4 linked regions of the Homo sapiens genome follow. The protein of the gene in region 4 interacts with the protein of the main gene of each other region in a biochemical or structural test. Each region holds a gene or a part of one and is shown on either strand. Other genes may lie near its edges. The genes, in order: SKP2, CDKN1B, ARIH1 and CCNE1.

Evidence for each region.
Region 1: the proteins of CCNE1 (region 4) and SKP2 form a complex in vitro, tested with the Homo sapiens proteins (2 studies listed by BioGRID, with this or other methods).
Region 2: of the proteins of CCNE1 (region 4) and CDKN1B, one has a biochemical effect on the other in vitro, tested with the Homo sapiens proteins (4 studies listed by BioGRID, with this or other methods).
Region 3: of the proteins of CCNE1 (region 4) and ARIH1, one has a biochemical effect on the other in vitro, tested with the Homo sapiens proteins (3 studies listed by BioGRID).

What each region holds. Positions count from the first base shown.
Region 1 is NC_000005.10:36,168,826-36,176,252, reverse strand, and holds part of SKP2 (S-phase kinase-associated protein 2), read right to left. Parts: intron 5,910-7,427; coding exon 5,811-5,909; intron 4,651-5,810; coding exon 4,520-4,650; intron 1-4,519. UniProt on the Homo sapiens protein: Substrate recognition component of a SCF (SKP1-CUL1-F-box protein) E3 ubiquitin-protein ligase complex which mediates the ubiquitination and subsequent proteasomal degradation of target proteins involved in cell cycle progression, signal transduction and transcription.
Region 2 is NC_000012.12:12,712,821-12,720,395, forward strand, and holds the start of CDKN1B (cyclin-dependent kinase inhibitor 1B), read left to right. Parts: upstream 1-4,547; 5' UTR 4,548-5,019; coding exon 5,020-5,494; intron 5,495-6,004; coding exon 6,005-6,126; 3' UTR 6,127-6,134; intron 6,135-7,575. UniProt on the Homo sapiens protein: Important regulator of cell cycle progression. Inhibits the kinase activity of CDK2 bound to cyclin A, but has little inhibitory activity on CDK2 bound to SPDYA. Involved in G1 arrest. Potent inhibitor of cyclin E- and cyclin A-CDK2 complexes.
Region 3 is NC_000015.10:72,596,208-72,603,634, reverse strand, and holds the end of ARIH1 (E3 ubiquitin-protein ligase ARIH1), read right to left. Parts: 3' UTR 648-7,427; downstream 1-647. UniProt on the Homo sapiens protein: E3 ubiquitin-protein ligase, which catalyzes ubiquitination of target proteins together with ubiquitin-conjugating enzyme E2 UBE2L3.
Region 4 is NC_000019.10:29,814,675-29,822,101, reverse strand, and holds part of CCNE1 (G1/S-specific cyclin-E1), read right to left. Parts: intron 4,966-7,427; coding exon 4,820-4,965; intron 4,697-4,819; coding exon 4,561-4,696; intron 1,401-4,560; coding exon 1,254-1,400; intron 381-1,253; coding exon 285-380; intron 107-284; coding exon 1-106. UniProt on the Homo sapiens protein: Essential for the control of the cell cycle at the G1/S (start) transition.

The sequences.
Region 1 (7,427 bases), on a different chromosome or scaffold from region 4:
TATATAAAGAGAAAAAAGATAAATCAAAAATAGGCAATGAACATGAACAAATCTACATTGCAAAATACCAAGATAATAAAAAGGAGCAAGAAATACCAAATAAAATTAGAAATATTTCTTCTCAGCCATCAAGTGAAAAAAAATTCTATTATAAAGTAGGTCTACCATAAAGTAGGTCTTCCATGTACCACAGGTAGATATTTAATTTTATTTGCAGGCTTTCAGGAGCCTGAACCCTGCGTTTTTTGGATAGTGAACTGATTCCTGCTTTTTTTGGATAGTGAACTGATTTTCTTTTTTTTTTAAAGAATTCAGAGAATTATACAGTTTACTTTTGGCCCAGTAATTCCACTTTTAGAAAAATATAGATGTGTATGAATATATTCAATGTGGCAACAGTTATATTAGCCCCTCCTCCAGTTAGTTTAATATGTTAACCTCATCCATTCCGTGAAATACACTGCTAATCATTATGAAAACGCTTTCTGATAACATTTCATACATTTAAAAAAATACTAGGATAGCTTGTAAACAAAATATATACAATGCGTTATAATTTCAACTTGGTCAAAACACACTCAAACTCACATTTACACACAAACACATACACAGAAAGAAAGAGAGAAGAAAAAAAAAAGGCTGCAAGGAAATACATCCAAAATGTTAACTGCAGTATTCAAGGGTGTTTGGATTACAGGCAACTTTTCAGAATTTGGAAGAAAGTCATGTAAGCTACTTGGCAATCAGAAAATGAATCAATAAATGTTACTTATTTAGAACAACAGGCAAACTTCATTAACATTTGAGGGTTTTTTCGTCTCACAAGTATATCCCCTCTCCTAAATTCTGGACTTGCATTTTCAACTGCCTCCTCAACATACCGTTTGGATATGAGATAGGCCTCTAAATTTATGTCTAAAATCAAATACTCAATTTCTCCCCCAAATTTCCTCCTTCCCTAAACTCTTTCCCATCTCAGCAAGTGATAATTTCACGAATCCAGTGGCTTCAGCCAAAACCCTTGAAATCATAGTGGACTATTTTTCTCACATCCCACGTTCATTGTGTCACCAAATCTCATGATGTTGGTTTTTAAAATGTGCCCAAATCTGATCATTTCTTACCACCTTAAGTGTCACCAGCCTAGTCTGCTAACTGGTCTCCCTGCTTCATACTTCCCCGCTACAGCCTTTTCTCAACACAGCACTAGCGTGAGTCTTTTAAAATGAAGTCAGTCATATTGCTCTGCTCGAAATACTCCAATGGCTTCCCATATCCCATGTCACTTAGGAAAAATTCAAAGCTTTTGCCTTGGCTTAGACAGCCCTTGGCCATCTTTCTCCTCTCACTGTTCTCCCTGCTCCCTCTCACACATTGGTTCCATATCAAGGTATTTGCACTCACTGGTCCTTTGTTCTTGAATGTTCTTCTCTCACATATGCATATGGATTCCTTCTTCACTCAGTCAGTTCTCTGGGTCCAGTACAGTCTCCTCAGAGAGGCCCTGTCTTTAACCATTCCATCTAAAAGTAGTCCTCTTTCTGCCACATTCTATCTGGTTACTCTGCTTTGCTCTTCGTCCTTGCATTTTTACCTCCTTTCATAACATTTATGAAATATGTTCACTTTCTGGCTCCCCCACTAGAAAGTAATCTTCATAAGAGTGACTTTCTCTGTTTTGTTCAAGGCTCTGTTTTGTTCAATCACTGTAGGTGCTCAATAAATATTTAATAAATGACCAAAAAATGAAAAAAGTACACAATAAAATTTTGAGGGACCAATCATCTAGCCAGCCAACTAGCCATCAGCAAAATCTGATGCAATCATACTTTGACACCACTGGAGAAAGAACGAAACATTGGGGGATAAAGGGTTAGTTTCCTCTGGCCCACACTTAAGCTCTGTCCTCCCTGGGCAGGAAGTAGTTAGTAAACAGTAGTCACTGCCAAGGTTTCCTTTTCACTGTCCCCTTCATTTCACCATAAACAGTAGACCCAACCTGAGCTAGAAGGATCTTAGAAACCACCCGTTAATCCAACCCGTTACTTCAAAGGAGAGATGATTTCAGCTACAGAAGTCAAGGTCAAATCCAAGACCAAATGTTTCTGTGCTTCATCCATTGCTCCATGGAAAGGTAGTGATGGGGGTAGTGGGGGAAGGAACAGTATTAACAGCCAACACTAATTGAACTCTTACCATGTGGCAAGAAATGTTCCACATGCTGTACATGTCTTAACTCATTTATTCTTTCCTGTAACTCTAAGAGATGGGTTCTACTTATCTCCATTTTACTGCTGAGAAAACTAAGGAACAGGCAAGTTTAGCAACTTGCTCAAGTCTACCCAGTAAATGGCAGAGTGGATATTTGAACCCAGGCCATCTGGTACCAGTCTATGAGCTAAAACCAAATCCATATTATCTCATATATAATGAAATGGTGTGTGCTATTGTTAATGACATTAAAAACTTTTTATCCCCATGGTATAATTAAAAAACTAACACTTCAATTTACAGTCTGTCTCTCTGTCCTGAATGTGTCTAGCAAGCAGCATTTTAATACCTACTATTTCTGCCAAAACTCGGTAAACAGGCTCTCTGTTCTTTCTTGGAGGAACAAAGGGAAAGATTTTAAGCCAAATTTGGACAAAACCAACAGCACTTTGCCTACAGCAGTTTCTCAACCTTGCACCCAGAGCCTCGATTCATGTCAGAAAATCTTTCAGTAAACCAGTGAAAGATCCAGATGTGGGAAAGAAATATAAACAAGGCACTGCCTTCCCTTCACCTGCAGACAGAGAAGAACCAAGAGTGATGGGATTTCACACTAAGAGGATGCTCGTGGGTGAAGAGTTTAAACTTCTTGGAGGAAAATTTGGCAGAAACTATCCAAAACTTGAGAATAGTACTTAATGCTGGACCCAGCAATTCCACTTTTAAGAATCTATCCTTAGAAATGCATCTAAAGATTTGTCTCTGTCACTCATAAAATTGTTTATAGGAGAGAAAAACTGGGAAGATTCTGAAAGTCCATTAGAATTCTGATCAACTGCATATATTGTTATTGACTTAATATAAATTATTGCATATCTATTTGATGGACTATCACATAGCCACTGATGATGACATCATGTAGTCACTGAAAATGGGGTTAAAAAGCATATTACGAAGTATTTAATATACCATGTCCCATTAAAAAAAAAAACAGTTTTTGTACAGGAAAAAGCCTAGCAAGATGTTAAGATTATTGATAATTTGCTTCCCTTTGTGTTTTTCTGTATTTTACATTTTTTTTAAATGACTGTATAACACTATGATCAGTTTTAAAATAGTAATTATAAATACTGGGTGGGGAGAGTGGTATGAAATGAAGACATGATTGCTGCTTTTACAGCTTGCTAAAGAAAGTGTTCACCTTGTCTGAAAATGCAAGTGTTTGGAATGGCAGTAGTCCAAATTTGAGTCCTTGCACAGGTGAAAGACTCGAATTTCTACCCACTCATGAGATCCTAGCAATTATTTTCTATAGCTTTATACATCTTACCAGAGGACATCTGTCCTGGAGCAGTAGTTTTATACTACTTAAATTTTAAGATCTATTCTGCAGATGTTTGATTCAAATCTTTTTCAGAATAATAAAAACTATAATAAACAAAACACACTCAAATAAGCTAGTACTAACATCAAGATATGGTTGATGTGTGTTGCTGGTTTAACTAGGTTTTGTAGAGCCCACAAACTGAATGTTGGCCTGAGACGGTGAAGCCATTTAAAAAACTTGCCATTTGTAATCACTTATCTTTGCAAATCAAGATTTTCTCATTAACATACAAGTAAAATAAAGCGTAACTGAATATTAAGGTTTTTAAAGACTGCTCCCTGCTACCTTTGACTTCTAATGCCTGTTTTCATCTAAAAATCCTCGTTGCCCTCTTGGACTGAATAAAAAGTAAAAGTCATAAATATGAACTTATTAACAGAGTTTATAATAGTTTTTCAACCTTGGAACTGATGTTTGGACCAGATTATTGTGCATGCTATTCTCCATCCTATACACCGTCCACCAGCATCCTGGCTTCCGCCCATGAGAGACCATCAGCACTCCTACAGCTGTGACAATAAAAAATGTCTCCAGACATTGACAAATGTCCCCGTACAGACAAAATAGCCCCTAATGAACAACCACTACTTAATACTAATCAAATGCTACATTTATGTATTTTTATGTTGGGGTTTACCTAACCATTTAGTTGATTAAAAGTTTTTCTGCTTAAAAATACATTGTTTTCAAGTGTAAAGGTTTCTACTGTTAGATCCTGAATTCAAACCTTGGCTCTAGCTCACTAGCTGTTTACCTTTACCTAACCATTCTGATTAGCAGCTACCTCATCTGAAAAAGGGGACTAACACATGCACTGGATTAAATGAGAAAACTTATGTGGAGGAATGATTAGGAGAAGCTCAATGAATCTCATCTATTATGTTGTGAAGGCCTCAGTGGTCCAGGCTTGGAAGCTCTAACCTGATTTCTGGAGATTCTTTCTGTAGCCGCTAAGATTCAGCTGGGTGATGGTCTCTGACACATGCGCAACAGCCACCTGTACATGCTTTTCAGTGAAATCAAAACACCAGGAGAGGTTCAGCTCATCCAGTCTGCACAAAAGAGGGGTAATAAACAAAATATGAAACCATCACACGGGAATGAGTTTGCCTCAAACTGCAAACAAAGAAAATATAAAACCATGGATTCCTTATCATTTCATGCACAGAACACCTGCTTCTCTAACAGTAGCTACCTTTAGTCACCTAAGTATACCCTGTTTGCCCCTGAAAGTTGCCAGGGGATCAGAAGGGCCTTAGTGAATGTGCCTCCTCCTCGAAATGGAGAGAAGCACCTGATGGCTCAAACCTTATTCCAGTACTGCAGGTAGAAATGCCAGTCTTTTATGTTTGCTTTCTCAAACTACCAACCACCCAACACAGACTGAACAATCACTCAGGATGTTTTACGCAATTGATGGATTGCACTGAGGATTCCTAATAAAGAGATGCTGATATTGCAAAAAGCCACTTCGTCTTACTGTGCTTCTGCTAACTGAGCAAAAACGAGGGTTTCAGAGACAAAATACAACCATTAATCCCCACTCCCCACTTCTGGCACTGCTGACTAAATATAGGGCTATACATTTGATCTCACTGATAACACGCATATCCAGAGGCAATCTATTTTAAATGGACCATTAACAAGACACAGATTCAAATGCTGTACCATGGAGACCAAGGGATATTTTTAAAAAACACACATATGCCTAGTACTGTGTATTCCAAAAAGCATGTACTCCCCTCACTTAGCAATATCTGTAACTCTGTACCCTTTATGTGCTGACATTATTATGAAAGATATTGTTAATAGAATTGCCCAAATTTACGGTCTATATTTATAAAACACCAAATTTGATAAAAAATTGTAAGTTAGGTCTACAGATACCATAGGGGAAAAAACCTGAATGTACAGTTAAGTGTGAGCAAATTTCTTACAACCATACTGTTGATAGACACTACTACACTTCCCTTATTTTAACAGTTCCAAATAAACAAAAAAGAGATCACTATACAAGTATCACTTGCAAACTCAATTGACTTGGCTCCTGAGTTTGGACAGAAAGTTAGGAGGGCAAAAGATTTTGCATTCACCAAATCAAGAGCCTGGAAAGTACAAAAAGCTCAAAAAGTTCATCCCATTTTATACAGATGTGAGGGATAATTTTACGTTTGACATAAGAGTCTATAATCAAGTCTCACATCTTTCATACCTGGAACAGCTGCTTAGCAAAGTCTGCAGGGCAAATTCAGAGAATCCAGAACACCCAGAAAGGTTAAGTCGCACTAAATTTGAGTTTTTTGCGAGAGTACTGGAAAAAGAGAAAAACGTCAGAAGAAAAAGACCAGTAAGACACTATTCATCAACAACATTTAGATGAAAGCAGGCGAGTGTAGTTAAGCTCACAGGTCTTTGAGTCAGTGAGTTTAAAATGTATATCACTATCTCTCAGACATCAAACAGGATAATTTGCCTCAGTTTACTCATTTGTGAAATGGTATTATCAAACTTCTTGGCAGAGTTATTAAGAAGATTAAATGATATAATGTAATAAAAGACTTACTATGAAGCAAATACACAAGAATATCAATCAATGTACTTTTTGAATTAAAAAGACAATGGAATAAACATATATCCATTTCACCCATAATTAGAATTAGCTTGCAAACATCTACTTGTAAAATCACCAGGTTCTTTTGATTATACATCTCTCAAATTTGCCATCTTCTCTAATACATCCCCAAATGCCCTGTGTTAGTAAAACTTAGTGATTAAGAGTAAGAATTCTGGAATATTGTATCACTAGGTTCACATGTTGGTTCAGCCACCTACTAACAATGTGACCCTGGAAAAGACTTACTCAGTCTCCCTGTGTCTCAGTTTCCACAACTATAAAAAGGAAACAAGATCACACTTCATAGGGTTGCTGTCAGAATTAAATGAAAATGCATTTACAAAATTCACTATCTGGCACATAATACATGCCCCAAAACATTAGCTGCTATTACTGCTATCTGTTTTATATCAGACTTCACCTTTTCTCACTTGAACGAACACAGCAGTATCCTTAACTACTCTAGCTTCTTCTATCCTCGATGGACCCTCCATGGTACCTGGCAAGTTAATTTCCTAAATTTCAACTCTTGACTTGTTCCTTCCATTCTCAGAACAACTCTCTCCACCATCCTTCCCTTTTTTTATTTTTTTTTCAGATGGAGTTTTGCTCTTGTCACCTAGGCTGGAGTGCAATGTTGTGGTCTCAGCTCATGGCAACCTCCGCCTCCCGGGTTCAAGCGATTCTCCTGCCTCAGCCTCCTGAGTAGCTGGGATTACAGGTGCCTGCCACCACACCCAGCTAATTTTTGTATTTTTAGTAGAGACAGGATTTCACCATGTTGGCCAGGCTGGTCTCAAACTCCCAACCTCAGGTGATCTGCCCACCTTAGCCTCCCAAAGTGCTGGGATTACAGGTGTGAGCCACCACACCTGGCCCATGCTTCCCTCTTAATGGAAGAGTCCAGTCCATTCTTCTTACAGCAAGGCGTAGGGGCCCATTACAATCTGGTCCCTGACTCTCCTCACCTTGTCACTCTCCTCCCTTAGTCCTGTGCTCCAGCAACTTCCAACTACGTAAGAGTTTAGAACCACACAGGAAGTTTTACCTAGACTGGTTGCTTTGTCTTATTACCTAGAGATCTCCTACCTAGATATCTTCAATACTCAAGAGTCACTTCCTCTAACAAGGCGGCTCCTCGTGTGTTGCCACATATTCACTGAAACATTTAATAAACACACTGCATGGTAATTATCTGTCTTGCTCATAAATAGT
Region 2 (7,575 bases), on a different chromosome or scaffold from region 4:
CCAGGCCTGGTTCCAACCTCTAGTTTTTGTGCACATGGTATATACTCCCCACAGGCAAGGACTCTGACAAATATTTCTTCACTTCCCACATTGCTGAGAATAATGCCTTGGACAATACCTTACACATGGTATTGATCACTGCTTAAAACCTCCTAATGCCCCAATGGCTTTCCATATCGCCAGGCCAATAATAAAAGCCCTACCTATGCCTACCTGGTCCTATCTGATCTGATGCGCTTTTTTTTTTTTTTTTTTTTTTTAAGACAGAGTCTCACTCTGTCTCTCCCGGGCTGGAGTGCAGTGGCACGATCTTGGCTCACTATAACCTCCGCCTCCCAGGTTCAAGCAATTCTCCTGCCTCAGCCTTCCGACTAGCTGGGATCACAGGCGTGTGCCACCATGTCCAGCTAATTTTTGTATTATTAGTAGAGACAGGGTTTCACCATGTTGGCCAGGCTGGTCTTGAACTCCTGACCTCAAGTGATCCACCCACCTTGGCCTTCCAAAGTGCTAGGATTATAGGCGTGAGCACCGTGCCCAGCCCTGATGCTCCTGTTACCACTCCCCACTTGCTCCGCCCTATCCACCATGGGCCCCCCTGCTGTTCCTTGAACACATTAGGCAAGATCCCACCTCAGAGACACTTCATTTGCTCTTTCCCCAGATAGCTGTATGGCTGCTCTCTCATGTCTTCAGGGCTTCTCTCAAAGGCCACCTTTTTTGTGTGTGTGAGATGGAGTCTCACTCTGTCTTCCAGGCTGGTGTGCAGTGGCAAGATCTTGGCTCACTGCAACCTCCGCCTCCTGTGTTCAAGTCATTATCCTGCCTCAGCCTCCTGAGTAGCTGGGATTACAGGCCTGCACTACCATGCCCAGCTAATGTTTGTATTTGTAGTAGAGATGAGTTTCATCATGTTGGCCAGGCTGGTCTTGAACTCCTGACATCAAGTGATCCACCTGCCTCTGCCTCCCAAAGTGCTGGGATTACAGGTGTGAGCCACTGCACCTGGCCTCAAAGGCCACTTTCTCCATGAGGCCTTCCCTGACCACTTATTCACATTGTGATCCTTGAAACACTTCCTTTTCCCTCTCCGCTTATTGTTTCTCCATAGCATTTTTCACCTCCTTACATAGTATGTACTTCTTTCATGTGCTGTGTTCATTTTCTGTCTCCTCTCCCCTTTTTGGAATGTCAGCATCATTCTAGTTTAAATCTGTTTGTTTACTTCTGTGTTCCCAGAGCCTAAGGATAATGTCTGGCATAGAGGAGGCACTCAATAAATATTTGTTGAAAGAAAGAAGGAATAAGCAAATTAATAGAAGGTGCTCCGTAAATATTTGTGAAATTGAATTAAAAGTGTCAGAAGGAGATGACTGTGAAATTCCCAAAGTCTAAAAATATGTGAGCTTAGAAGAATGGTGGAGTTGAGTGCTGCCTCATTATAAACATCCTCGAGGAAGGACTGAAACTGTGTGCTTGCGGTGGGAGGGGCAGCTGGGCAAGGAACCGTGAACCTTCGCAGAAACATTTGGGGCTGCAGAACTTGGGTGAGAGCGCTGCATCTGGGAGCTGGCGACGCTGGCGGCTTGCTCATTCACCCCATCTGAACACTTGTCTATGACACAGGTGTTTTCTCTTAAGTTATTTTGGTCTTTGCCTCTCTCCTCAGGTTGTGAAGATTACAGAAATCTGGGATGGCTTATGGGACGCTTCTCAGCCCTAAGTAGGAAAACAGCAGTGAAAATGGCAACCAAAACATCACGCAGGACTGGGGGTTTTGGGGAAACAGCTCACTTTAGAGCAGTGCAGTGTAGAGCTTTCCGTCTTTTACCAGGGTCCACCTTTAACACTGTTTATCTGAAAATTTTCCCCCTGGCTTACTCGCTTGCAGCTGCCCACTTTGCAGAAGGATGGCGCTCTGATCTCTACGCTCCCTGTTCCTTCAGGGACTCCATAGTATTTTTTTTCACGCGTCGTCGCTACTACAGCAGACGCCTGCGTTCTCATTATTTGCTGTACAGATCTCCGGTGCCTTGACTGTAAACAAAACACTTTAGATCATTGTGAGGTCGATGTAAGCACAGCCTTTCTGCTGGCAGCCAGACTTCTTAAGGTGGTGTGACTGTGACTTGCTTACTTTTCGAGATCAACAACAACAAAGCGACAAAATGGTGCTCCTACATATTAGTTGAAAGATTCAGCATGTGAAGGGGATCGAAGTGTTTATTTTCCACTTCCATATAAGACATGAATTCCATGAGTAAAATCAAACTTCTGTGGCAAGGTGAACTACTCTAGAATGTCTCCATTTACATACATGTGGTAGTTTGGGTGTTTATGCATATGGATAGATGCACATATATAGAGTTCCTGTGTTGTCTAGCAATTGTTTTAAAATTTGGACAATTATCTAATTTCTAGGGTAAGGTATAAATTATGGTAGGGAGGCCTACCCTAATTTTCCTGTTCCTTTTCCCCCAGTCTGCAGTCCAATAAATTGACAGCCTTAAAAGTAGAAAAACTAAAGAGGATGAGACCTCTTGCTTGATCCTAGGTGAATTCTTTTCTGTCAGTTAGGTAGGAAGTCCTGACTTGAAAACTAGTTCTGGGCACTGCCCCCTTTACTGTTCTCTGGGTATCAACCCCTGTCCTTCAATTTTAGTTGAACTAGTGGATGGTGATACCACAGGCTCAAGACAGCTGCATTTAAATATCAGTGACCACAGGCCACATCAAGGAAACATCTGCAGGCAACCCAGGGCCTGGGAAGGAGCCATTTTCAGTCACTTGTAAGACAGCAGGACCTGCAGACTACAGCACAATCAAACTCAGACAAAACCCTGAACCAGTGAGAACCATTAGGAAGGAAAGGAACAGAAAATGAACCAACCTGAGTGTTAGGAGACTTGCATCTAGTCCTGACTCCGGTACCAACCGAATGCATGTCCCTGGACAGGAAACCTCTCTGAGTCTCGATTTCCTCCGTGGTAAAAAGGAGAGGGTTAAACCACAGGGTCCCGAGGGTCCCTTCCAGCTGTCACATTCTGGAGCGTATGAGATGAGGTAGGCACACAAAGTGGACAAGATGTGGCTAAGAAAACAAGCTACACATCAAGCTCATCTGTAGCATAGGTGCTTAAGAAAACTTTGCTGCTGTGTAATATTAGAACGGAAGGTTGGTTTCCAGTAAAATGCATTAACTTTGGCTCAAACCAAGATGATGGGTACCGGGCATGGGGGTGGGGAGGCAGTTGAAGATCCACTGAGCTTTGTCTCAGGGCAGCCCTGCTCATCGTCCTACTTTACCTTCCACCACGGTGCTCAAGCCCACACTGAGAGAGAAATTTCCAGCTGCAAAAGGGAGAAGAGAAACGCTGGAATACTAGTATCGGACGTTAGGACATGGTTGTGGTGTTTTAAAAATCATTTCATCATCTGGAGTTTGACCCCGAGGGGAGTATTTTCACCCTTCAGCCCTCTGAAAGCATTCACTAGCATCTGAATATTGTTCTGAGTTTGTTGGAGCAGTGAAATCTGGTGAGAGAGAAGGGTGGAGGAAGGAAGGAGCTGTTGTATTTGGCGGCTGGACTCAGGTAGAGGAAACTGCTACAATCCCGGGAAAGAACAGAAAAGTAGAAAGGGACGAGTTCCCACACGCAGCCAATGTCCATGGCCTTAACTGTGCTTGGGAAGGAAGATCCTGGGCCAGGGGTGTACCCTCGTTTTTCAAAACTAAACGTGTCTGAGACAGCTACAAAGTTTATTAAGGGACTTGAGAGACTAGAGTTTTTTGTTTTTTTTTTTTAATCTTGAGTTCCTTTCTTATTTTCATTGAGGGAGAGCTTGAGTTCATGATAAGTGCCGCGTCTACTCCTGGCTAATTTCTAAAAGAAAGACGTTCGCTTTGGCTTCTTCCCTAGGCCCCCAGCCTCCCCAGGGATGGCAGAAACTTCTGGGTTAAGGCTGAGCGAACCATTGCCCACTGCCTCCACCAGCCCCCAGCAAAGGCACGCCGGCGGGGGGGCGCCCAGCCCCCCCAGCAAACGCTCCGCGGCCTCCCCCGCAGACCACGAGGTGGGGGCCGCTGGGGAGGGCCGAGCTGGGGGCAGCTCGCCACCCCGGCTCCTAGCGAGCTGCCGGCGACCTTCGCGGTCCTCTGGTCCAGGTCCCGGCTTCCCGGGCGAGGAGCGGGAGGGAGGTCGGGGCTTAGGCGCCGCGGCGAACCCGCCAACGCAGCGCCGGGCCCCGAACCTCAGGCCCCGCCCCAGGTTCCCGGCCGTTTGGCTAGTTTGTTTGTCTTAATTTTAATTTCTCCGAGGCCAGCCAGAGCAGGTTTGTTGGCAGCAGTACCCCTCCAGCAGTCACGCGACCAGCCAATCTCCCGGCGGCGCTCGGGGAGGCGGCGCGCTCGGGAACGAGGGGAGGTGGCGGAACCGCGCCGGGGCCACCTTAAGGCCGCGCTCGCCAGCCTCGGCGGGGCGGCTCCCGCCGCCGCAACCAATGGATCTCCTCCTCTGTTTAAATAGACTCGCCGTGTCAATCATTTTCTTCTTCGTCAGCCTCCCTTCCACCGCCATATTGGGCCACTAAAAAAAGGGGGCTCGTCTTTTCGGGGTGTTTTTCTCCCCCTCCCCTGTCCCCGCTTGCTCACGGCTCTGCGACTCCGACGCCGGCAAGGTTTGGAGAGCGGCTGGGTTCGCGGGACCCGCGGGCTTGCACCCGCCCAGACTCGGACGGGCTTTGCCACCCTCTCCGCTTGCCTGGTCCCCTCTCCTCTCCGCCCTCCCGCTCGCCAGTCCATTTGATCAGCGGAGACTCGGCGGCCGGGCCGGGGCTTCCCCGCAGCCCCTGCGCGCTCCTAGAGCTCGGGCCGTGGCTCGTCGGGGTCTGTGTCTTTTGGCTCCGAGGGCAGTCGCTGGGCTTCCGAGAGGGGTTCGGGCTGCGTAGGGGCGCTTTGTTTTGTTCGGTTTTGTTTTTTTGAGAGTGCGAGAGAGGCGGTCGTGCAGACCCGGGAGAAAGATGTCAAACGTGCGAGTGTCTAACGGGAGCCCTAGCCTGGAGCGGATGGACGCCAGGCAGGCGGAGCACCCCAAGCCCTCGGCCTGCAGGAACCTCTTCGGCCCGGTGGACCACGAAGAGTTAACCCGGGACTTGGAGAAGCACTGCAGAGACATGGAAGAGGCGAGCCAGCGCAAGTGGAATTTCGATTTTCAGAATCACAAACCCCTAGAGGGCAAGTACGAGTGGCAAGAGGTGGAGAAGGGCAGCTTGCCCGAGTTCTACTACAGACCCCCGCGGCCCCCCAAAGGTGCCTGCAAGGTGCCGGCGCAGGAGAGCCAGGATGTCAGCGGGAGCCGCCCGGCGGCGCCTTTAATTGGGGCTCCGGCTAACTCTGAGGACACGCATTTGGTGGACCCAAAGACTGATCCGTCGGACAGCCAGACGGGGTTAGCGGAGCAATGCGCAGGAATAAGGAAGCGACCTGCAACCGACGGTAATGACCCTTTCCCAACCATAGAATGTGTTTGGGGCCCCGCTTTGCCTGCTGGAGGGTGTTAACCTTAGCTTGCTTTTCGGCGTATTCTGATTTAGCTTTGGGAGAGCTAACTTTATTGGTCTTAGGTGTTCAGTGCTACCTGGCCCACTGCTTGTCTGTTTGTGACTTTTAAGTCAGAAACTGGAGATGGTAAGATCCGATAATTTCCCTAACTTAATACATCGCGGTCCCTCTCACTAGCAACTCCTAGGTATGTGACAAAGTTGGGATGTTTATCAACGGTCCGCCTCCTGGCTAGGGAAAGAGCTCTGGGGCGGAGAATGCACTTTCTGTTTTTTGAAAACAACCTCATTTTGTGCCCTTAAAAGCCACTGGGGATGACGGATCCAGGATTGTGGGTGGAGGTAGTGGGTTTTTCATCCCCTGACTATGGGGCCAACTTCTGCCAGCCATTGTTTTTTCTAATAAAGATTGTGTGTTCTTTTTAAAAATTTCCCCTGCGCTTAGATTCTTCTACTCAAAACAAAAGAGCCAACAGAACAGAAGAAAATGTTTCAGACGGTTCCCCAAATGCCGGTTCTGTGGAGCAGACGCCCAAGAAGCCTGGCCTCAGAAGACGTCAAACGTAAACAGCTCGGTGGGTTGATCACTAAAGGAGCACGCACTGGAACCCGGGGCCTTCAGACCTCACGATACCTGATCTTACTGGTTGCTGGCAAATTAAAAGCTTATGGGGTTTTGTTTTGTTTATACTTCGTGAGGTCAAAAAAGTAGCAATGGGGAAGGCTGGGGATACGGTAATTCCTCAGAGTTTCTATGCCCAGAGATACTTTCTCTTCAAACTGTTGACCAGAGCAGCTACTTGTAACCCAGGCCCCATCGGGTAGGAAGGTCGTTTCCCTGTGAGTCCCACTAAAACGTGTTGGGAGCAATAGGTTCTTTGCCCATCCGAACAAGAACTAGGGTACTCCCTCAGTCCGAATTAATGAGAATTAATTTCCTAGAGGTTCAGCTTGAGTCGGTAACAGATTTTGAGCCATACATGGAAAAATGGCAAATACATGATTAAGTTTCAATTTTGAGGGGGAATGTTTGGTAGAAATTGCTCATCTTTGGTTATGCAAGGGATTAGAGATGTGAATAGGATGGTATGTTGTGTTCTTTGACATTTTAATAAACTGTCACTTTCCCTGTTGTCTCCTAAGTTTGGAGAGAGAAGGAACCAGTATTTGCAAAAACCAAATGGAAAGATAAAAAAGTTACTAAAGTTTCTACAGAATTTCTGGTAACACTGAAGTTGCAAAGCAGAAGTTAAATTAACTCTTGTCAGTAAGCAATCCAGGAACACGTCAGCCAGTGTATGCTAATTGTGCCGTAACAGGGTGATTTGGATATTTGTAGGGGAAATGGGTAGTAAATATCAAGACTGGTGACCGTAGGTCAGCCCAGCACAAAGGAAGTGGAGATTTTTCCATGCACAAGAATCTGATCACTGTAAATAGCTAATTTGAATAATTCAGTCCCCAGATAACCAACATGGGTTGGTTATTCATAATAAACTACATATTTTAATAGTTTATTAGCTTCCTTTAGACCAAGACTGTGACCTCTTTATTTTCTAAAGCACACACGTAGTTTAGCATATGAGGCGATAAAATATTGATGTTAACTTTTTAAATCCCCAGTTATAAAAATTTTAAAATAACAGGGATTAAGGTGAGATTCAGGTTTGTTGTGTCTTTAAATTGTATATGTGACTTCACATATCTTTTTCAGCGCTTATACAAAACGGCACTATAGAACCTCCATTTTACAGCACCATATGAAGTGGGAAAATTAGGTGAAAATTTTCCTGAAGCAACCTTAACATGCGCAGCCCTTGTTGGTTTGTGACTTGTGGCCTAGCTCATCAGATGAGCCACGAGAATCAGACCTGGATTTTGATCTGGCCCTGTTCTGACATGCAATGAGGCATTTGTAGGATTTAGTAATATTGCTAGTTCAAAGAATACTAGAAATATTAGTAAGAACCTATTCAAAAGTATTCATGAGTATTTTCTGCATATGAATCAGGAATT
Region 3 (7,427 bases), on a different chromosome or scaffold from region 4:
ATGATGATGACAGGGAGGCAACCACAGTTTGCCAAAAGCATTGGGCTGATTTCGTTTCGCTCTGAGAATGAATTGGTATCTGCTATCTTTGACCATGGGTGACTGACTGCAGATCATGCCTTTTTCATTCATGTTAATTCATTCCTTACCTTTTTTTTTTTTTTTTTTTTTTGAGACATGTCACCCAGGCTGGAGTGCAATGGCACTAACTAGGCTCACTGCAACCTCTGCCTCCCAGGCTCAAGCCATCCTTCCACCTCAGCCTCCCCAGTAGCTGGGACCACAGGTGTGTGCCACCACACCTGGCTAGTTTTTTTGGTAAAATTAGCCCCAGTACAGACGGGGTTTCTCCATGTTGCCCAGGCTGGTCTCGAATTCGTGAGCTCAAAGCAATCTGCCTGCCTCAGCCTCCCAAACTGCTGGGATTACAGGCATGAGCCACTGTGCCCAGCCTGGAAAAAAAATCCACTTCTAATCTAGCAAATTTTGTGTTCTTGTTTACTATTTTAGCATTAATAACACCAAGTGACTAACATTCTCCTCATGAGCGCTATGCTAGGAATAAAAGCTTGCCACGGTGGAATTATCTAAACTAGAAGAAATCAATACCATGGATCCCAACAAAAATCAACAAAAGGGACCACATGTTCATTTTATCTGATATATTTCTGGAAAAAAATGTTTGCCATAGCAAAATGGAGACGGGGAGCCAAGCAGCAAAATACATCCGTAGTGAGGTACAGAAAACAGTATCCACTAGAAATCTTTTCAGGAAGGGTGCCATTTTGGGTTGGAGAAACTCCTTGAAAGTTAATTTGGGGGAGAAGGAGAGTCCTTGAGGGACCAGGGTAAGGTCAGAACGTTTCCTGGGAGAAAGGGGGAACATTTCTCTGGCTAATAAGGGCACAGTGCCGGACAGGGTGAAGAAGAAAAAGTCAGTCAAGAGTGGTACATTTCAGAGCATGAAAGGCCTCACACTGCATAAAATAGACTACACCTTAAGACTTCCAATTTTCAGTAAGACTCTTAGGCCCATATAAAATTCAGGAGCCTGTGGATTTTTTGGTGTGGAAACCACTGAAGAGGCAGATTGTACATCTAAATTGCAAGGGCGAGACTTAAGTATGAATTGGGAATTTAGAGTGTAGCAAATTAGTCAGACATTAGATAATAAGTAAGCAAAGTTTATGAACAATTCACCAAGAAATACAAATGGCTCTTTAACATATGAAAATATAACTGTGCAAGGAAAAAAAACATGCAAATTAGTTTCCAAGAGATACTTTCCATTTCTTGCATTGGCAAAGAACAAAAATTTCACTGACATAATTGTGAGGACAAATGCATTCACTAGTGGGAATTCATAAAACTTCCATTGAGAGCAGTTTGGCAATAACTACCAAAATTAAAAATGCACATAATCTTTAACTGAATTATTTCAATTCTAGTAATTTATTCTATAGGCATAGATGTGGGAAATGACTTTACATACAAAGGTATTCAATGCAGCATTATTTGTAATAACCAATGCCTAAAACCAACCTAGATAGAGGTTAAATAAATTATAAGTCCATATTATATGGCGCATGAAAAAGAAAGAGGCAACTATTTACATATTAATATTGAATAATTGCCAAGATATATTATTAACAGATAAAGTGCAGAAAATGCATATAGTATCTGTATTAATAAAAAGGCAAAAATAAAGAGGAATATTATATACATAATTGCTTGTATACTTAGAAAATATTTCTGGAAGGATATTCAAAATGCTAAAAGTGGTTCTAAAGAGGAGAACTGGGTAGCGGGGGGACAGGGAAGAGAAGACTTTTTACTCTATACCTTTAATACATTTTGAATTTTGTACTATATGGATGTATTACCTACTCCAATAATAGCGACTAAGAAAGTGAAAAGCACAACATACCAAGAATTGTGATAAATGCTAAGAAGGAGAAATATAGAACAGTTAGAACAAACAATGGGGAGCCAATCTAGACTTGTTTGGACAGGGAAATTTTTCCTGGGTAAGAGATGTTTAAAATGAGACCTAAAGGGTAAGGCATTAGCTTAGGGAAAGGGGATGAAGACATGTGCAGGCCAGGAAAGAATTCTAAGGCAAAGGAAGAACTTGTGCAAAGGCCCTGAGGATGGAAGAATCTCAGCCAGTTTGCAGCACAGAATGAAGACCAGTGTGAAAAGAGAAAAAGGTAACAGGGTTGGTTGCAATAGGAGAAGAGGTAGGAGTGCAGATCCACAAAGGCCATATGAGGAATTTTATTTTAAGGGCATTGGGAAGGCACTAGAGAATTTTGAGCAAGGAATGGCATGGTCAGAATGAACACTTAATAAACTCATGTTAGCTCATGAGTAGAGACTGAATTGGGAGGGGGACAAAAATTGATAATCTAGGGTAAACTAAAGGATGCTGCAAATGAGATGATGAAACACTTCACTTGGACTAGTGTGATGGCAAAGGAGATGGAGAAAAAGTAAATGGGTTCTCAAGTTTAGAGGTGGAAAAACCTCCAATACACATGATTGGATATGGGGGAATGAGGGAAAGGGAAATGGATGTTAAAGGAAGATTGCCAGGTTTCTTACTTTGAAAGCTGCTGGATGAGTGGTACAGCCAATTACTGAAATGGGAAGACTTAAGGACAAAGATGTTTGTAGAAAGCTCATGAGGCTGTTTCCCAATATGTGAAATCTCCCTGAAAGGGGTCCTGTGAGGAGCAAATGACATTCTTTATTCAATAACTAGAAGCCATTGCTATAATGTTTCAAAATCTCTCCTTTGACCTCAGATCTTGTGAGGAAGATAGAACACTTTCTGTACCAGGGCCTTTTTCAATAAGAAAGGACATTGGTTTCTCAAATTGCAATCACTAAACCTAATGTACTTTAATTATATACATAATTAGAACAATCTCTTTTTAAAAAAACATAATAGGTTGGATACTATGGTTCACACCTGTAATCCCAACACTTTGAGATGCTGAGGCAGGAGGATTGCTTGAGCCCAGGAGTTCAATACCAGCCTGAGCAACATAGTGAGACCCGTCTCTACAAAAAATTTTAAAATGAGCCTGGCATGATGGCATGTGTCTGTAGTCCTAGCTACTTGGGAGACTGAGGAGAGAGGCTCTCCTGAGCCCAGGAGCTCAAGGTTGCAGTGAGCTATGATTGCACCACTGAACTCCAGCCTGGGTGACAGAGTGAGATCCACTGTAAAACAAACAAACAAGAAGTATGTTCACAGGAAAATCCCAGAAATCACATAGAACATGTTTCTTGTGTCACAGATGGATCTTCATTTCCCTTAGCAAATCTCCTCAAATGTGACCCTGCTTATCAAGATTATTCAAATCATATAGCTGTGCTGGGCATACAAAAAAAATGGCATTTATCTATTTTTATGGTGGGGGCTGAGGACATAGAAGAGGAATCAGGCATCGGTAACTTTTCAACACCCCCAATATATGTATAAACAAGGAGCTACAGTTGAGTTTTTACATTTTTAATGTTTTATCATTTGTACTGACAAGGTCCATAGCCAGCTTTGTTCTGATGCCACCTGCTGGACAAGTCTGTAACATCTTATTTCTCTTTGGAAGTGTCCAGTCCTCCCAAAACCTATACCACAAACGCTTGAGAGTCCAGCCAACACTGGGAAATATCACTTCAAAATAATATGAAGCTTCACTGGACTTCATGGAGGATTTTCAGTATGCCTATTCTTGATGCTACAGATATACTCAATAGCAATCAATGGTGAATGTGGACAAAGGCATAATACTGCATTGTTTGTGAGAAAAAATACTGGAAACATGGAAATGTCCATCACCAGTAACTGTTTAAATAAACTAAGATACATCCATATTAAGACATATTATGCAGCCTGTAAAAGTCCTCAGGTTGTTAAAATAGTTACATAAAACAAATAAAGTGTAGAAAATATAGTATGCTTCCATTCATGTTTAAAAAAATAATAAGGGGGAGGCCAGGTGCAGTAGCTCACGCCAGAACTATGAGAAGTCGAGGTAGGAGGCCAGGAGTTTGAGACCAGCCTAGGCAGCACAGTGAGACCCCTGTCTCTACAAAAAATAAAAAATAAAAGGAAGAGATATTGACACATTTTAGAAATACAGTTTGGAAAAGAAAACACAACCAACTGGTAAGATATTTGTCTCTGTGGAGGGAGTAGAGGCACTAGGGGAGTTAAGATGGGAAGGTGTTGCTTTTCTTTATGATTCTACAAAATTTAACTTTGTATTATCCATGTACTTTTACTTTTGAAAACAGTTAATGAGGCCAGGAGCGATGGCTCACACCTGTAATCCCAGCACTTTGGGAGGCTGAGGCGGGTGGATCAACTGAGGTCAGGAGTTGGAGACCAACCTGGCCAACATGGTGAAACCCTGTCTCTACTAAAAATACAAAAATTAGCTGGGTGTGGTGGCGGGCGCCTGTAATCCCAGCTACTCAGGAGGCTGAGTCACGAGAATCACGAGGCAGAGGTTGCAATGAGCCTAGATCGTGCCACTGCACTCCAGCCTGGGCAACAGAGCCAGACTCTGTCTCAAAAAAGAAAAAAATACTAGCTAATGAAATATGTAAATAAAACCATTGTTTAAACTCCCATTCCTAACCAGGCATGGTGGCTCATGCCTTTAATCCCAGCACTTTGGAAAACCAAGGTGGGAGGATCACAGGCAACATAGCGAGACCCAAACTCTACAAAAAAAAAAAAGCCAGGCATGGTGGCACATGACTGTGGTCCCAGCTACTCAAGAGGCTGAGGCAAGAGGATCACTTGAGCCCAGAAGGTCAAGCCAGCAGTGAGCTATGATCATGTCATGGCACTCAAGCCTGGGTGGCAGTGAGACGTGTTTAAAAAAAAATTTTTTTTTTTTTTTTTGAGAGGGAGTCTTGCTCTGTCACCCAGGCTGGAGTGCAGTGGCACAATCTCGGCTCACTGCAACCTCCGCCTCCCAGGTTCAAGCAAATCTCCTGACTCAGTCTCTCAAGTAGCTGGGATTACAGGCGCCCACCACCACACCTGGCTAATTTTAGTATTTTTAGTAGAGTTGGGGTTTCACTATGTTGGCCAGGCTGGTCTCAAACTCCTGATCTCAGGTGATCCACCTGCCTCGGCCTCCCAAAGTGCTGGGATTACAGGCATGAGACACTGTGCCTGACCTAAAAAAATTTTTTATTAAAAAAATAAACTCCTACTTCTGAAATTCACTAGTGATATGAACAAAGTCACAAGGAATATACCTCCCACTCTAGCAAACAACAACAAAAGGCCAGATGAGCTAGAAAATAAAACATATGTTTAATTCATCAGAAAGCTAAGGACACAAAGAAATCTAGGTTGGGTGCAGTGGTTTATGCCTGTAACCCCAGGACTTTGGGGTGCTGAGGCAGGCAGATCGCTTGAGCTCAGAAGTTTGAGATCAGCCTGGGCAACATGGTAAAACCCTATCTCAACAAAAAATACAAAAATTAGCCGGGTGTGGTGGTACACGCCTGTAGTCCCAGCTGCTCAGGAGGCTGAGGTGGGAGGATCAACTGAGCCAGGAAGGCAGAGGTTGTAGTGAGCTGAGATCACTACAGGCTGTACTCCAGGCTGGGTAAGAGTGAGACCCTGTCTCAAAATAAAAACAAAAACCAAAGAAACCTAAATGATCCAAACTCCAGAAAGTGCCAAGTCCTTCATAGGAGAGAAGAGACCCCCTAGCTGTTGTTATTCCTAGTTGAACTATGGTAGGAAGAGGAATACTACAGGGGGGAGAAAAGAGAAACCTGCTGAAATTTAACAACATTTTCACAACCCCTTGGAGGCTGGTTTGACATTAGAACCTAGATGACCCAAATCCACAGAGGAAGGCTTCCCACCAATCTTACCCCTTAGATGATAACCAGGTACAGGAAGGTGTAGTACACTAAAGGTGTGGATAATAGAAGGAACGCTGAGAGAGCTTGACTTCTCCCAAGGGCAAAATACCCTTTAAAAATGAAAGGGGAGGCAGGATTGTTGTGAAATCCAACAGAGGCACTCTTGGAGCCTAAATGGGGTCAGAAATGCTGAGAAACCCATCCCCTAGGCATTGTGGGCATTCCTCTACAAAAGGGCAGGGCACACATGAGAGCTGAGAAAGATCCTCCTATCCCCAGCCCATTGATTAAAAAAAAAAATCCTGGCAGCAAGGTTGTAAAGTAGGGAAAGATCTCCCACATTGATAAAAGCTGGTGGCTTAGCTATGAAGCAAAGTCAGATCTCTGGAATCTTGCCAATGCCCAAAACTCAGGCCCTGGTGATATGAGAGTTCTGATTCTACGTTCCTTCAAATATTTGAAGCTAGAGGCAAACTGAATCAAACTAAAACTGCAGTGAAGCCCCAGTCTAGAATTCATATACATCAGATTGAGCCACCATTCAAGTGGCCTGAAAAAAAAACAAAGGGCATGCTCTGTTTTGGAAGTAAACATTTTCTTCAATTTCTTTTTTTTTTCAACATAAAACGTCCATCATCCAATCAAATATACAAGACGTGCAAAAGCAAGAAAATAAGATTCATGGTAAGGGAGAGGAAGGGCTCAATAGAAGCAGAACTAGAAAAGACCCAGATGTTGAATTATCAGTTTGGATCCTTAAAATAACTGATTAAAAATGAAAGAAAAAACAGAAAAAACCCAATAAAATAACTGATTAAAATGCTAAAAAGTAGAATGGAAAATGTGGAAAACATGCATGAAGAAATAGGAAATTTCAGCAGAAAATTGTAACTATACAAATATAATGAAATGCTAGAAATAAAAATATTAGAAATGAATAATTCAGTACAACTATGTATCCATAAATAACTAAAAATAAAAATTTTTAAATGGAGAATTCAATAAACAAGTTTAACAGGTTAACATTGGAAAGCATCAAAAAACTTAAAGATGGTTAAATGGAAAGTATCCAAACTGAAAACAAAAAGAAAACAGGGCAGGGGAAAAATCATCTGAGATCTGTAGGTTTATATCAAATCATCTAATATACATGTAACTAGAATCTCCAAAGAAGAGGAGAAGCAAGAGAGTATGAGACAAGAGAAAAATGTAAACGGATAACGGCCAAGAAAGAACCAATATTAATGAAAGACATCAACACAGATCCAAGAAGTTCAGTAAACTCTATACAAAGAAAAACATACCTAGACATTCCCTAGTCAATCTACTGAAAAGTAAATATAATGCACAGATGCAGCCATTGAGAACAACCACACATTACGGAAAGGAAATAAAAATTAAAATGATGAATGACTTCTCACCAGAAACAAATGAGGCCTGAGTACAATAAAATAACTTCTTTAAAGTACTGAAAGAAGAAATAAAAGGTCAACATAGAGTCCTATATCCAACTAAAATACCCC
Region 4 (7,427 bases):
GATACTGCGGCAGTAGCACTTCATGTAAGTCATTTAGATATGCAACCTGCATGTATACATTCAGCCAGGACACAATAGTCAGGGGACTTAAACGCCACTTAAGGGCCTAAAGGAAAACAGAGAGAAAAGAGACCGATGATTGAGAAAAGAAGTTCAAAATGCAGCCATGTTCCATGCCACAATGTGTCCAGCTGGAGAACACCTCCCAGAGGCACTCACACTTCAGGTGGAAAAGATCTGCCGTACGCATTTAAAAAATGGCCGGAAAATTCACTGGAACCCACCTTCATAATCATTAATTCCATGGTGAGAATTTCATCTCCTGAACAAGCTCCATCTGTCACATACGCAAACTGGTGCAACTTTGGAGGATAGATTTCCTGAAAGGAAATAAAAGATGGCACTAGCACCAAAGCCAATCTCTAACAGTCTCAATTTATAATGCATCCAAAATGACTTCTCAGTACCCTGGCATGGAAAGAGAGAGGGCGCACTGATGGAATTAACACAGAAGCCACACCAATGGTTGTAAAAAAAAAAAAAAAAAAAAAAAAGAACACAACTCCCACCCACCATTAAATAAATGGATGGAACTTTGACTCATTGTGGGTACTCTTGAAATATCCCCTTTTCAGTACCTTTAACACATTTGAAAGTTGGGCCCATATACCCTTTGATAATCATACACAAATTTTTAATCTTTTCTTTTTTCTTTTAGACAGAATTTCCCTCTGTTGCCCAGGCTGGAGTGCAGTGGTAGGATCTCGACTCACTGCAACCTCGGCCACCTGGGCTCCAGCAATTCTCTTGCCTCAGCCTCCCGAATAGCTGGGATTACAGGCACGTGCCACCACGCCTGGCTAATTTTTTGTATTTTTAGTACAAATGGTATTTCACCATGTCTCAAACTACTGGCCTCAAGTGACCCAGCTGCCTTGGCCTCCCAAAGTGCTGGGATTATAGGCTTGAGCCACCAACCCGGGCCCAAAATTATTATCTTAGTTCAAAGTTCATTTTTTTTTTTGGCTCAATGTAACTACATGAACCTAGGTCTTCCATACCCTCACTACTTTTCTCTTCCTGGTCACTTTCCAGCCTTTTTTTCTTTTTGGCATGTGTCTTAACTTTACAGGGTAGCAAATCAGAAAAATTTAGGATGAGTGCTATAGGCTAAGCGCCAACCTCTTCCCCCAATCTCAGTGGAGCTCGAGAAATAACACACATTATAGAACAAATATTTGAAAATTATTTACCTCAAGTTTGGCTGCAATAAATAAAGATGAAATCCCAATAAGCTGTAAAAGAGTTTTTACAACATTTTCTTGTGTCGCCATATACCGGTCAAAGAAATCTTGTGCCAAGTAAAAGGTCTCCCTGTGAAGTTTATAGACTTCACACACCTGAAAACATATTTAGTAAGTTTTAGCACAAGTAAGTTTTACTTGAGGGAGGGGAAAAAAAAAAAACTTGTAATGACTTTGGTGAAGGAAAATATAAAATGCAAAGTTCCTGAACTCAACAATTGATAGTTTTTTGTTTTTTTGTTTTTTTTTTGAGGTGCCTTATTCTGTCACCCAGTCTGGAAAGTAGTGTTGTGATCTTGGTTCACTGCAACCTCCAACTTCCAGGCTCAAGCGATTCTCTTGCTTCAGCCTCCCGAGTAGCTGGAATTACCAGCACCCGCCACCATGCCCAGCTAATTTTTGTATTTTTAGTAGAAATGGTATTTCACCACGTTGGCCAGGCTGGTTTTGAACTCCCGGCCTCAAGTGATCCACCTGCTTCGGCCTCCCAAAGTGCTGGGATTATAGGGATGAGCCACTGTGCCCAGCCTAACAACTGATAGGTTTTAAATGAGGGGCCCTTCTGGCCTGTCCCACCCTCACCTGCCTAGGATGTGAATCATCCCCTTGCCCGCACATCCCCGTGGAGTAGGCCACCTGCCTGTTAGTCACTCACTAGCACACAGGTCATCAGATGGACTGTCACAGCACAGCAGTGCTGGTGTTCAAGCAAGCAGCCCTTATTTGACTGAATAATGGCCCCACAGGGCAAGAGTAGTGATGCTGGCTATTTGGAAATGCCAAAGAGAAGCCGTGAAGTGCTTTCTTTAAGTGAAAACATGAAAGTAGAGGATTAAAAACATGGCATATCTAGAGCTCAGTACTATCTGTGGCTTCAGGCATCTCCTGCGGGTCTTGGGATGTACCCCCGAGGATGAGGGGTACTTCTGTAGTTACACACTCAACTTCTACATGTTTTCATGAAGCAGGTCTGCCTGAGATGTCCTTCCACTTCAGAAGAAAAGCCCACTTCTCACCCATTCAAGTCTTACAAGGTTGTCTAGGAAGCTTCCCTTAATCAAGAAACTATAAGCTACCGCAGTTCATCCCAGTAAGATATACAACCAATAAAATCTCATCTTTTATGTTTAACCATTATCTATCAAATGTTGTTATACTTGTTCTTTTGATTAACTGTTAAAGAGAAATAAAATAGTGTGGACCAAGAAAAGATTTGAGTTGGGTGCTGTAGCTCACACCTGCAATCCCAGCACTTTGGGAGGCCAAGGCATGGGGATCCCTTGATCCCAGGAGTTGGAGACCAGCCGGGGCAACATAGCAAGACCCCAACTCAACAAAAAATAAAAAATCGGCAGGGAGTAGTGGCTCATGCCTGTAGTCCCAAGGACTGCGGAGGCTGAGGTGGGAGGACTGCTTGAGCCCAGGAATTGGAGCCTGCAGTGAGCCGTGACTGCACCACTACACTCCAGCTTGGGTGACAGAGCAACTCTGTCTCAAAACACAGAAGCCACTCCAATGGTCCAAATATCTTTAAAAATATGCTTAAAAAAAAAATTGAGACAGAGTCTCATGGTCACCTAGGCTGGAGTGCAGTGGCGCTATCACAGCTCACTGCAAGCTCCAACTCCCAGGCTCAAGCAATCCTCCCACTTCAGCCTCCCCAGTAGTTGTGACTACAAGCCTGAGCCACTATACCCTGACAATTTTTTATTTTTTGTTGAAATGGGGTCTCAAGGGCCAGGCGCAGTGGCTCACGCCTGTAATCCCAGCACTTTGGGAGGCCAAGGCGGGCGGATCACCTGAGGTCGGGACTTCAAGACCAGCCTGACCAACATGGAGGAAACCCCGTCTCTACTAAAAATACAAAATTAGCCGGGCGTGGTGGCGTATGCCTGTAATCCCAGCTACTCGGGAGCCTGAGGCAAGAAAATCGCTTGAACCCGGGAGGCAGAGGTTGTGGTGAGCCAAGATCACACCATTGCATGCCAGCCTGGGCAACAAGAGCGAAACTCCGTCTCAAAAAAAAAAAAAAAAGACATGGGGTCTCGCTATGTTGCCCAGGCTAGTCTCTAACTCCTGGGCTCAAGGGATCCTTCTGCCTTGGCCTTCCAAAGTGCTGGGATTACAGACATGAGCCACTGTGCCCAGCCAGGATTTGAACAATATATTTTATTAGAATAAATGGGAATGGTGGAAAAGGGAATGGATTCCAAGAAGTTAAAAAGGAGCAATGTCAGACCTGTTTAAGATAAGCTTGTTCATATATGTTTACAATTTATGACAGTAGCTATAAAACAGGTGATATATGCATCCCAGTGAATACATTTAAAAGCAATTTAGCTGGGCATGGTGGCTCACACCTGTAATCCCAGCATTCTGGGAGGCCGAGGTGGGTGGATCACAAGGTCAGGAGTTCAAGACCAGCCTGGCCAACATGGTGAAACCCCGTTTCTTCTAAAAATACAAAAATTAGGCAGGGTGCGGTGGCTCACGCCTGTAATCTCAGCACTTTGGGAGGCCAAGGCGGGCAAACCACGAGGTCAGGAGATCGAGACCATCCTGGCTAACACGGTGAAACCCCATTTCTACTAAAAATACAAAAAATTAGCCAGACGTGGTGGCGGGCGCCTGTAGTCCCAGCTACTCGGGAGGCTGAGGCAGGAGAATGGCATGAACCCGGGAGGAGGAGCTTGCAGTAAGCTGAGATCGCACCACTGCACTCTAGCCTGGGTGACAGAGCAAGACTCCGTCTCAAAAAAAAAAAAAAAAAATACTGGGCGTGATGGCGTGCGCCTGTAATCCCAGCTACTCAGGAGGCTGAGGCCAGGAAAGTCACTTGAACCCGTGAGGCAGAGGTTGCAGTGAGCTGAGATTGTGCCACTGCACTCCAGCCTGGGTGACAAAGCAAGACTCCATCTCAAAAAAAAAAAAAAAAAAAAAGCAATTTAATGAACATAATGAACAAAGCTCAAATGTTAACAGTTACAATTTACTGGAAAATACAATCTTAACAATTATTTAAACTTGGATGGAAAAAATTAGATGCCAATTTTAAAACATCTGAAGGATAAAAAGATTTCAGAAATTCTTGCTAAGAATACAAGCAAAACAGAAAGACCACCACAGTAAAAATATACCATATAGCTTCAGAGATGGAGAACATGTCGAGGGAATAAACCACACAGAGGTCCTAATACACAAAAATGCTGGAAATGCTCAGTGCTTTCATGAAGCGAACAGGAAGACTCAAGCTCACCTCCATTAACCAATCCAGAAGAATTGCTCGCATTTTTGGCTGCAGAAGAGGGTGTTGCTCAAGAAAGTGCTGATCCCTTAAGTATGTCTTTTCCTTGTTTAACATGATTTTCCAGACTTCCTCTCTATTTGCCCAGCTACAACAAAACACACAACAAAAATGAGGCCCACAAAGGGGTAAGAATGCGTCCATGCTATGAGGGATAAAGGGGAGCATGGAGTAAGAGACCTGGAAGCCATGTGGCAGAGTCGGCACTGACCTCAGTACAGGCAGCGGGGAGCCTCTGGATGGTGCAATAATCCGAGGCTTGCACGTTGAGTTTGGGTAAACCCGGTCATCATCTTCTTTGTCAGGTGTGGGGATCAGGGAGCAGGGGTCTGCACAGACTGCATTATTGTCCCAAGGCTGTAAATGAAAAATACACAGGAGAGGTGAGATAAGATGCAAACAGCTCTTACATTACCCAAAAACATTACAAATTCACCTGCAACTCAGTAAGATACTAGGCATGACTTCTGAAAGTGCTTCCAAAAAGATACATTATGATATTTTTTGTCACAACTCAAAGATTTTTTTAATGAGTACAATGCATCTACTAAAATTTCTTAAAAGTAAAACAGAACTGTCAATAAAAATATTTACATAAGCACTTCACATTCATTAGTATAAAAGATCAAAAATGGGGGGGAGGGGGGAGGGATAGCATTAGGAGATATACCTAAGGTTAAATGATGAGTTAATGGGTGCAGCACACCAACATGGCACATGTATACATATGTAACTAACCTGCACGTTGTGCACATGTACCCTAAAACTTAAAAGTATAATAAAAAAAAGATCAAAAATGTAAATTTGGCTGCCATATGTATTAAAGTCCCCTCAGTTTAAAACAAAAACTCATCAAATGTGACATTTTCTTTTTGTTGCAGGACTAGCCAAATATGTTAAATAATAAAGGACTTTTTCTTTTCCTTAACTCGAAACAAACAGAATGAACATCCACCTAGTTAAAACCAAATCAAGTGATGGTCACAGGTCATACTATGAAGTCTACAGGAAGCTAGCCTAGACACTCCTTAAGACCTCTGAATCTCCTGAGTCTTGCAGGGTAATTCAAATACCTGATAAAATAAGGAACTATTAGAAACCAAAGCACTATGCTTTTCTTTTAAAGGTTTCAGATATGTATTCAATTTTCAATATCTGAAAAACACTAAAGTCCATTTAGAATATTTTCATTTTTAAAGCTATTCCTACTCTAAGAAGTCTGTTTGATTTTTAAAGTTATAAAATAGTAACTTTGCTAAAGATATTAGGCAGGTAACAATCCTACTAGCATGGAAGCCATATGAAAGTCTGAGACTTGGCTTTTTTTTTTTTTTTTTTGAGAGAGGGTCTCCCTCTGTTCCCCAGGCTGGAGTGCAGTGGTGTAATCTCAGCTCACTACAACCTCTGCCTCCTGGGGTCAAGCGATCCTCCTGCCTCAGCCTCCTGAGCAGCTAGGACTACAGGCATGCACGAGCACACCCAGCTAATTTTTGTATTTTTTTGTAGAGATGGGGTTTTGCCATGTTGTCCAGGCTGGTCTCGAACTCCTGGACTCAAGCCATCCTCCTGCCTTGTCTTCCAAAAGTGCTGGGATTACAAGCCTGAGCCACCGCACCTGGCATTTTTTTTTTTTTTTAAAGCAGAGACCACCAGCCTGGCCAACCTGGTGAAACCCCGTCTCTACTAAAAATACAAAAATTAGCCGGGTGTGGTAGCGGGCGCCTGTAATCCCAACTACTCGGGAGGCTGAAGCAGGAGAATCACTTGAACCTGGGAGGCGGAGGTTGCAGGGAGCCGAGCTCGCGCCATTGCTCTCCAGCCTGGGTGACGGAGCAAGACTCTGTCCCCCCCCCAAAAAAAAAAAAAAAAAAGCAGAGACCATTAACATTGACTAAAGAACAAAATAGACAACTGGGGTCACTATAAATGAAAGTGGAAACTCGGGCTGTAAGTGCTACCTCGAAGACACAGCACATGGTGGCGACCACAACACATTGGCCGCCTTCAGAGGAAGCCCAAGCACTTTCAGTTAGAAGAGCAAAGCCAGATAAAGCTCTTCCCCACCCAATGTACAAAGAATTGGGCATGCAAATTATCCATGACAGCTCCTGCCAACAGCTGTGCGAGCAAGGCTGCTTCCTTTCAGTTCTAGTACCATGTGCGGGTGGCATTTCCTTAACTCAAAAAGGGTCACATTACAACCGCTGTAAGTTGTTCTTCATTCAGGAAGAATGAATTCTAGTCTTGAAGGCATAATGCTGGGTGCCACCCTCTACAGCCAGATGGCTGGCACATCTGAGAGCAGGCCTTTGGACATAGATGAGTCCAGCAGCAGTTCCCAAACTAGGTGAACCATCAGCAGACAAATGGTTTCCAAAGTTGGCCTTTTTAGGGACCAGTGGATGAGGTAGAATAATTAAGTCTATGTCCTTGAGTGTACACCAAGTTTCAAAGCAAGATCTGTCTGACTTTATTTAGGAAAGAATGAGATAACAATAAGAGACCCACGGGATTCCTAACCACTCCAACTCCTCATACCACTTTTTTCCTTACATAGGATTATTTTCTGAAAAGTAACAGTCCAGGATTCCACTTCAATAGAAAGATTGAGTCTTGTGCAAAAAAATTAAACAACAAAATGGACGTGTTAAGTAGATCTTAGATAAAAGGGTATTCTTTTCATTAAGAACAGCCTAAGATGAAAATTAAAAAGCTTCCATGTGGTCTCGATGAAGCAGTTACACAAGAGTTTGGCACAATGGCTCCAAGTAGCTCAAGACTGTCGTACTGGGGGGAATTATGATAACTCCAGAGAAAAA